2 linked regions of the Homo sapiens genome follow. The protein of the gene in region 1 purifies or fractionates together with the protein of each later gene. This does not show direct contact. Each region holds a gene or a part of one and is shown on either strand. Other genes may lie near its edges.

What was found. Proteins that work in one complex are often made in the same cells at the same time.
Region 2: the proteins of GALNT16 (region 1) and TRDN purify together in Homo sapiens (co-immunoprecipitation; one large-scale study listed by IntAct). This does not show direct contact.

Annotation. Positions count from the first base shown.
Region 1 is NC_000014.9:69,258,864-69,262,957, forward strand, and holds the start of GALNT16 (polypeptide N-acetylgalactosaminyltransferase 16), read left to right. Parts: upstream 1-1,294; 5' UTR 1,295-1,427; coding exon 1,428-1,604; exon of another isoform or gene 1,605-1,664; intron 1,665-4,094. UniProt on the Homo sapiens protein: Catalyzes the initial reaction in O-linked oligosaccharide biosynthesis, the transfer of an N-acetyl-D-galactosamine residue to a serine or threonine residue on the protein receptor.
Region 2 is NC_000006.12:123,504,451-123,507,950, reverse strand, and holds part of TRDN (triadin), read left to right. Parts: intron 1-3,500. UniProt on the Homo sapiens protein: Contributes to the regulation of lumenal Ca2+ release via the sarcoplasmic reticulum calcium release channels RYR1 and RYR2, a key step in triggering skeletal and heart muscle contraction.

The DNA of each region.
Region 1 (4,094 bases):
CAACTCCTATCAAATCCTAGGCCCCCTGCAACGCCTGGCAGCTCTCTCTCTTGAACACATCAAGCTCTTCCATCCTCTGGATTTTTGCAAGGCCTATTTCTGCAGTCTCTCCCCTGTCCTCACCTCCCCCTTCCTTACCTCTTAAGTGATTCATCCACCTTTCTGAGAGCTTTCCCAAAGGCCACCTTACAATAAATTATTTCTTCCTCTGTTGGATCCCTACTTTGTTGTTACACATCTATTCATTGAGCGCTCTGTGCCCGACACTGTGCTGGTTTCCTAAAACTCATCCAAGCCTCTTGCTTTCTGCCTGGAGTGAAGAGTAGTTCACGTTCTGATTCTCAGTGCCTCTAGGGCTGGAGCGGAATCTTAATGTCTGTGTCCTCGTCTCTCACCACCGCGTTTTGCACTTTGTCGAAAGGTGTCAGATGGTGAGATGGCTTCTAGACTGGGCTCTGCCCACTAATTAGCTGTGTGGCCTTGGGAGAATCATCCGGCCTCTCTTGCTGCCCTTCTTTCCGATGAAATAATGCTGACGATGATATTTCAGGGTTGTCCAGGGGTCAATGAGGCGGGATAGAGGGAAGCATCGTGAAATCTGGGAGCCCCAGGCCAGCGAAAAATGTGGAAGGGCCGTACCCGCACTCTCCTAGCACTGGGTGTGAGGCAGCGTCGTTTCCCCTTCGCGCTCTTCGAATGTCAAGTGCACCAGCTTCCAATCCCTCCTCTGGGCGGGCCCGGTCTGGCTAATCTCAGCTGCAGATTCCAGTACAAACTCAGGACTCTCCCCCGCCCAGCCGCCCCTACACAAGGACTCGCCGAACACACCTTGAATCCCGCGCCAGAGCGCAGCCCGGAACTGCAGCTCGCGGCGCGGGCCCAGGTCGGGGGTCGCGCGTCTCCAGTCGGTGACTCAAGGCCGCTCGGTCCGGGGGTGGGTGTGGGTCGGCAGGACCGACCAGGGCCGCGCGGGGGCAGCTGCCGGGCGTTCGGTCACCTAGCGGTGGGAGCCGAGGCTGGCTTTGGCCAGTCGCCATTCCGCCGCGGGCGTCTGTCTCGCCGGGTTCCCGGGCGCGGGAGGAAGGCCCGCGCCGCTTCCCACTCGGCGCGCTTCTCTCCCAGTGCGCAGTGGCCTGGTGGGTCAGCCGGCGGCGGCTGGAGCGCGGGGCCGGCCCTGCGCACGAATGAATGGGCGCCCGGGGGACGCGCGCGCTCGGGGCTGAAGGGCATTAGGACCGTGAGGATCGCTCCGCGATCCTGTCTCTCCCTATCACCCCCCCGCCCCCCCACCTCTCTCCTTTTTCTGCTCTGCAGGACTGAGCAGCTAGGCGCGAGCGAAAACAAACAGCTGGGGCTGCGAGCGCCCCCGCCCCGGCCCCGAGAGCACGCCGGCCCAGTCCCCCACCTGGGGCGCCCGTCTGCCCACCATGAGGAAGATCCGCGCCAATGCCATCGCCATCCTGACCGTAGCCTGGATCCTGGGCACTTTCTACTACTTATGGCAGGACAACCGAGCCCACGCAGCATCCTCCGGCGGCCGGGGCGCGCAGAGGGCAGGCAGGAGGTCGGAGCAGCTCCGCGAGGACCGCACCATCCCGCTCATTGTGAGTACGCCCCGAGCGTCGGCCGGCCGGCTAGGGAGCCGCGGCGCGCGTCCAGACCCTGCGCGGCGGCCGAGGGCGCGGGGCCCGGCCAGGGCTGAGTGCCCGCTGCGCCGGGCCGGCTTTGTATATGTTGGAGCATTCCTGCCCGTTGTTATGGCAACCTCTGCCGGGCGGCGGGGCTGGGGCGCACCGACTAAGGGAGGGTGACAGAGGGTGGGGGCTGGGAGAAAGTGCTGCAAGTTTGGTGGGCCCGGCGTGCGCGCGCGGCTGGGAACGTGGCGGCTCTCCCGGCTCTGCGCTGCCGGGGCCGGGAGTCTGGGGGCTGCGGGAGCCTCGTGTGCCCCGGAAGGCTGCCGGGCCCAGCGCGCGGCGAGCGGGCGGTGGGAACCACTCGCAGCCGAGCGCGTAGGTGGCAGTGCGCAGCCCCTCTCCAGCCTTCTGGGGGCAGAGGACATCGGGTGGGGGCGTGGGTAGGGGAAGGCTCTCTAGGCGCTGCGCCTGGCTTCGAACCCCCTTCTGAGCCGGGTCAACTTGAACCCGCTTCTTCGGCGCGGACACCCAGCTTCCCCGGAGTTCTCTGGGTTGAGGAGAGGTCTCGCACTGTACGCGTCTCTCACTCCCAACCTTAGGGTCCGCCACCACGGGTAGGTGGGCAGTGTCAGCGCCCGAACTTGGCGATACCCTTGCATGAAGTCAGCCTCGCGACATCTAAGCGGGCAGGGAAACAAAGGCAGTGTGGCACAGCGGGGGCGGCGGCGGGGCTGCGGGGGCCCTTGGCGCTCTGGGGACCCGGGCGGGGGCGTGCGGAGCCGCAGCCGCCCTGCAGGGGGCGATCCTGTCGCCGTCTCCGTCCGAGCCCCAGGTGACAGAGCTGTGCGTGGCCAGGCAGGGGCACCTGTTGAGGCGGGAGGCTTTGGCACCCGCCGAGAGTGCGCTCGAGCGGGCGCATTCTTCCAGACGGGGGCGGTTGGTGGACGAGAGCCTCGGACGACCCTCGGGAACTACCAGGGCGGGGCAGCCTGGCCGGATGAGGACCAGGAAGAGGAGAGCCGAGTGGGGCGGGGGTAAAGGAGTGAGGAAGCGTGGCGATTCCGACAAGGAAAGATCTGGGCCTGGGGGTGGAGGGGTGAGGAGATCCGCGGGGGAGGTGCAAGGTCCGGAGGGCTGAGGCTTGTGTGGAGCCGAATCCGAGAAACGCATCCAGACGCGGATCTGAACCCCAGGAATATCGGGAAGTTCATTGGAGAGTGTCCCCTCATATTCCCATCCTGCCCCAGATTCCGAGTCCCCTGCAAAGGAAACATTATTTCAGGGCTTTGCCTGAGGAGACCTGGGGCGGGGGGGTGAGGTTGTGGGTTTTGTCCTAGATACCAGTCTGGGTGAACTCTCTGGGGGCAAGCCTGATTAGGTGCACTGTTCCCTTCTGGGCTGTTCTCCCAGGACACTGTTTCCAAAGCACTTGTCGCCCTTTGGACAGAAAACTGATAAGGAAAAGCCTCCTGTGCTGAGGCCCCAGAGTGTTGTGATCTGAGCAGAGGGACAGGTTGGAGCTGGAACTGTCCAAACCAGCAGTGGCCTCCAGACCCCAGGGAGCTTCCTCTCCAGGAGCCCAGGCTGCCACATTCATACTCAGTGGCAGGAAGAGCCCTAGTCTCAGGCAAGGCAGGCTGGCCAGATGCTCTGTCCCTCTTTCTGGTGAGGCGATGAGAAGAGGGTCTGAGTTGGAAGGGGCGGAGAAAGAGGCTGGGCAGGGAGGAGAGGAGGGAAGAGAGCACAGGAGACTGCTGCTCAGAGCCTCTGCTTTGGAACCCGGAACCTGAACCCTGACCTGGCCCATGCACCTCTCTCCTGCTCCTTCCAGAGTCCTGTAAGATGCACTGGGAGGGCCGCTCACATTTCTCAAGAGTCCCAGAATGGTGTAGGGGACCTGCTGGAAGGATTCAGCACTCATTTTGAGGGGTGGGAATTGGAGGTCATGAGAATCACCAGTAAACATCCTCTTGTCCCTGCTTATTCCCACAGGGTTTGACTTGCTGCAGGTAAGAAAAGGTCTCAGAGCGGGAAGCTAAGTTTAAAGTATGAAGGAGTATCAGGGAGATACCTGGGAGCTGGGAAGTGAAGGTGCAGGAAGAAAGGGAGAATGGAAGTCCCTGGGAGTGGCAGAGCCTTCTGTGGCCACTTAGGGGCACAGCCAGCTCCCTCTTTGTTCTTAAGCTTTAGATGCCTGTTCCACCAGCACTGACCCCCCCGTCAGGCACCACTTTTGACAACTGCCTTGCATTGTTTCATTGTATTCCTCTCTTCCAGTTATTTCTTCCATGTGATTTGCAGCTGAATGTAAGTGATGCATGCGGGAACTGTGCTGGAAGCTCCTTGCATCCCCACATTGATGCACACAGCAAGATTTCTTTTTTTCTTTTTTTTTTTTTTGAGATGGAGTCTCACTCTGTCACCCAGGCTGGAGTGAGGTGGCATGATCTCGGCTCACTG
Region 2 (3,500 bases), on another chromosome or scaffold:
CAGTTCTTTATGGAATGAGAGAGAAAATTTGTTATTTTCTAACTCCCAACATGTGTAGTATGTTTCTTGAGGGATACTATTCTATTTAATACTTTGGCATCAGACATTCTGAATCTGATGCAGTAGCTAATGGATCACGCTAATTCCAAGATTGAATCAAATATGCTGATGTCATTTTTTTTGATTAGGCCATTTTGTTTTCCATTTGACAAAAGTCATGAATAAAATGCCTTCCTAAATAAAACTGGGTGATTTGAATACCCATGGCAATACTTTTTGTTTTTTTCATTCCTTAATAAATTTCGTCACTTAAATTATTTTAGGGAAAAATCAGGAAAAATATTTTGGCACAAAATTGAAGAATGTGTACTCAAAAGTAAATAGAAGTTGGGTGTTGCTTTAGTTTCATGATATTTTCTTTATTATAGCCACATCATTGTTTAGTTGTCACTCATTTTTTTCTACTATGAGGCAAAGTTATCTATTTCCAGAGTGAATGTGATTGAAGAGTGTCTAAAATAGTAGAAAATATTTTATTATTTTTATACTTAAAGTCAATGATTATAATGAGTTGGCTATATATGTGGTTCTACCTCTTAGAAAATAATCATTGCCCACTTATAAATTATAATGGCATTAAAAAGAAATCTGAATTTCACACATCTATAGTTCCATACTATAAAGTTAAGGTTAAATCAACTGTAACTTACAAGGAGTAGATAGCTGTCATTTAGAGTAAGCAAATATAACAATTTCATACAAATTAGTATAAACAAAAAAAAAAGTTGGCAAGTTTAACAGGTTTAGACAAGTTTATTTCTAAACACATATTTACATAATGCAGTCTCTATATCACTATATTATACATATGATCTGAGTATAGTGGAATATTTACTCTCTCCATCAAAATTGCTAATCCAGTATACATTTATCCTCTGTTTTCTCTGAAAGAAGCATTGTGCTAGACACTATGGTGATACAAAAATAATAATAGAATTCCTGCCCCTAAGCACTGTCTGTCTGGTAGGGAAGACAGATAGATCAAACTATCTATATTTCAAGATATATAATAAAGAATAAAATGTATAATTTAATAAAAATTCAGAAAAATGGAAGCTCATGGGAAGACATTATTAATTCAAATGGGAGAGCCATTTTTTTGCATGTGAATTGACCATGAAGAAATTTAATCCCAGCACTTTGGGAGGCCGAGGCGGGTGGATCGCCTGAGGTCAGGAGTTCAAGACCAGCCTGGCCAACATGGTGAAACCCCATCTCTACTAAAAATACAAAAATTAGCTGATGTTGGTGGTGCACACCTGAAATCCCAGCTACTCGGGAGGCTGATGCAGGAGAATTGCTTGAACCCGGGAGGCAGAGGTTGCAGTGAGCCAAGATTGCACCATTGCACTCCAGCCTGGCAACAGAGCCAAGAGTCTATCTAAACAAAAAAACAAAAAGACAAAAATAAATAAAAAAGAAATAAAGAAATTTAAATATGTGGAAAAATATAGAAAATATAGAGAATGCAGTCTGACAACAGTTGACACATGGAAAAATACATAAAATATTCAAAAGAAAGAAAGCAGTCCAGTAGAGGAATAAATTTTTGGAAAAGTGCTGTAACATGGGAGATAGGAGGAAGCCAGATATTGCACGGTTTTAATTTTGCTGTGCTAAAATTTATTCAGGTAGTTTTATTATTATGCTGATTTTTAGAGCTCCAGCAACTAGCTGTGAGCCCAGGTCAACATAGACTCTCTAGAAGTGTTTTTTAGGTGAATGAGTTGCATGAGATTGAGGTGCTGTTGACCACTCCAGTGAAACTTTCTTTCCAGACAGACACTAATAAACATTCCAGTGTGGAATTCTGGAATGATTTCAATTTAAAGTCATCCGCAGAAAGCTGCTGGTTTCAGTCACAGAAACATATGAGTTTACTGCAGGAAAGAGCAGAAACCAGCAAAGGAGGTTTAGAAATGATTTATAGGAAGAAGAAAATCCCCTGAGTGTAGTTACAGAAGCCACAAAGATGTTGAAAGTTTATGGACATGTGAAACCCCATCTCTACTAACAATACAAAATTAACTGGGCTTGGTGATAGGCGCGTGTAATCCCAGCTACTTGGGAGGCTGAGGCAGGAGAATTCCTTGAAACTGAGAGGCAGAGGTTGCAGTGAGCCGAGATCGTGCCACTGCACTACAGCCTGGATGACAAAGCAAGACTTCATCTCAAAAAAAAAAAAAAGTTTATAGAGTAATTGAGTAATATTTGTATGAGAATTTTATGATTAAACAATATTGAATAATGTGTGTATCATAATTCCCCTTCTTAAAAATTCTCAATACACTTCAGCTTTGAGAAAGTCCAAGCTAAATGACCAGGTTAGCTTATTGTTGCCAAATGAATTTGGCCATGAGAATATTCTCCAATACCTAATACAGTATCAACATCTTCCTGTAAATATCTGAAGTATCTGAGAAACAGTGTTTTGGGAAGTGCTGGCGTAGTCAATTAAGTGCGATACCACAGATGATTTTTGGTTTGCAAGCTAACCAGCATCTGGCATTATCATTTTCATTCTCTCAATGGGACCTTCTGATATTATCTTGGCTTAGCCTGAAATCATCATTTAGGGTACCAAAGTCAAGAAACTTGATTACATTTTTTCATTAAATTCTTTTTTTTTTTTTTTTTTTTTTTTTTGAGACAGAGTTTTGCTCTTGTTGCCCAAGTTGTGGTGCAATGGCGCAATCTCGGCTCACTGCAACCTCCGCTTCCCTGGTTCAAATGATTCTCCTGCCTCAGCCTCCTGAGTAGCTGGGATTACAGGCATGCACCACCACGCCCAGCTAATTTTTGCATTTTTAGTAGAGATGGGGTTTCACCCTGTTAGCCAGGATGGTCTTGATCTGCTGACCTCATGACCCGCCCGCCTTGGTCTCCCAAAGTGCTGGGATTACAGGCATGAGCCGCCATGCCCGGCCTTCATCAAATTCTTTAACATGAGTGACAATAAAGGCTACACAGTGCATTAGCAAATGACATAGAGGATTCCAACATTGCAGTAGAGTTGCTGTGGTGTATAGTGGTTATGTGTAGTCACATACAAAAAGGAATGTCCAATATTCAGCATCTATTATGAACAATTTTCCACAAATTATGTGCTACATTATTACTGCTTTTTAAAAGATGCTTGAATGATCCACAGACTAGTTATTTGCATCACAGTTCCCTCTTCCAAAATACGGATAATATCAAATTAAGAATATATGTGTGTAATATATATATGTTCTAATTTATATATCTATTCATATATATTTTTATTTATAGCCCTTTGAATTTCCCATGATATGTTTAAGGGCTTTAAAAACTAGTAGAATTATCGCTGACTTAAGATAAACAGGAGCCAATATCTGAATTTCTTCACTTTCAGTTTTTCTAAGGCCAAATCATTAGACTATAGGTCTTTCAGTTATCTTCTAATGGATTTCATTGTT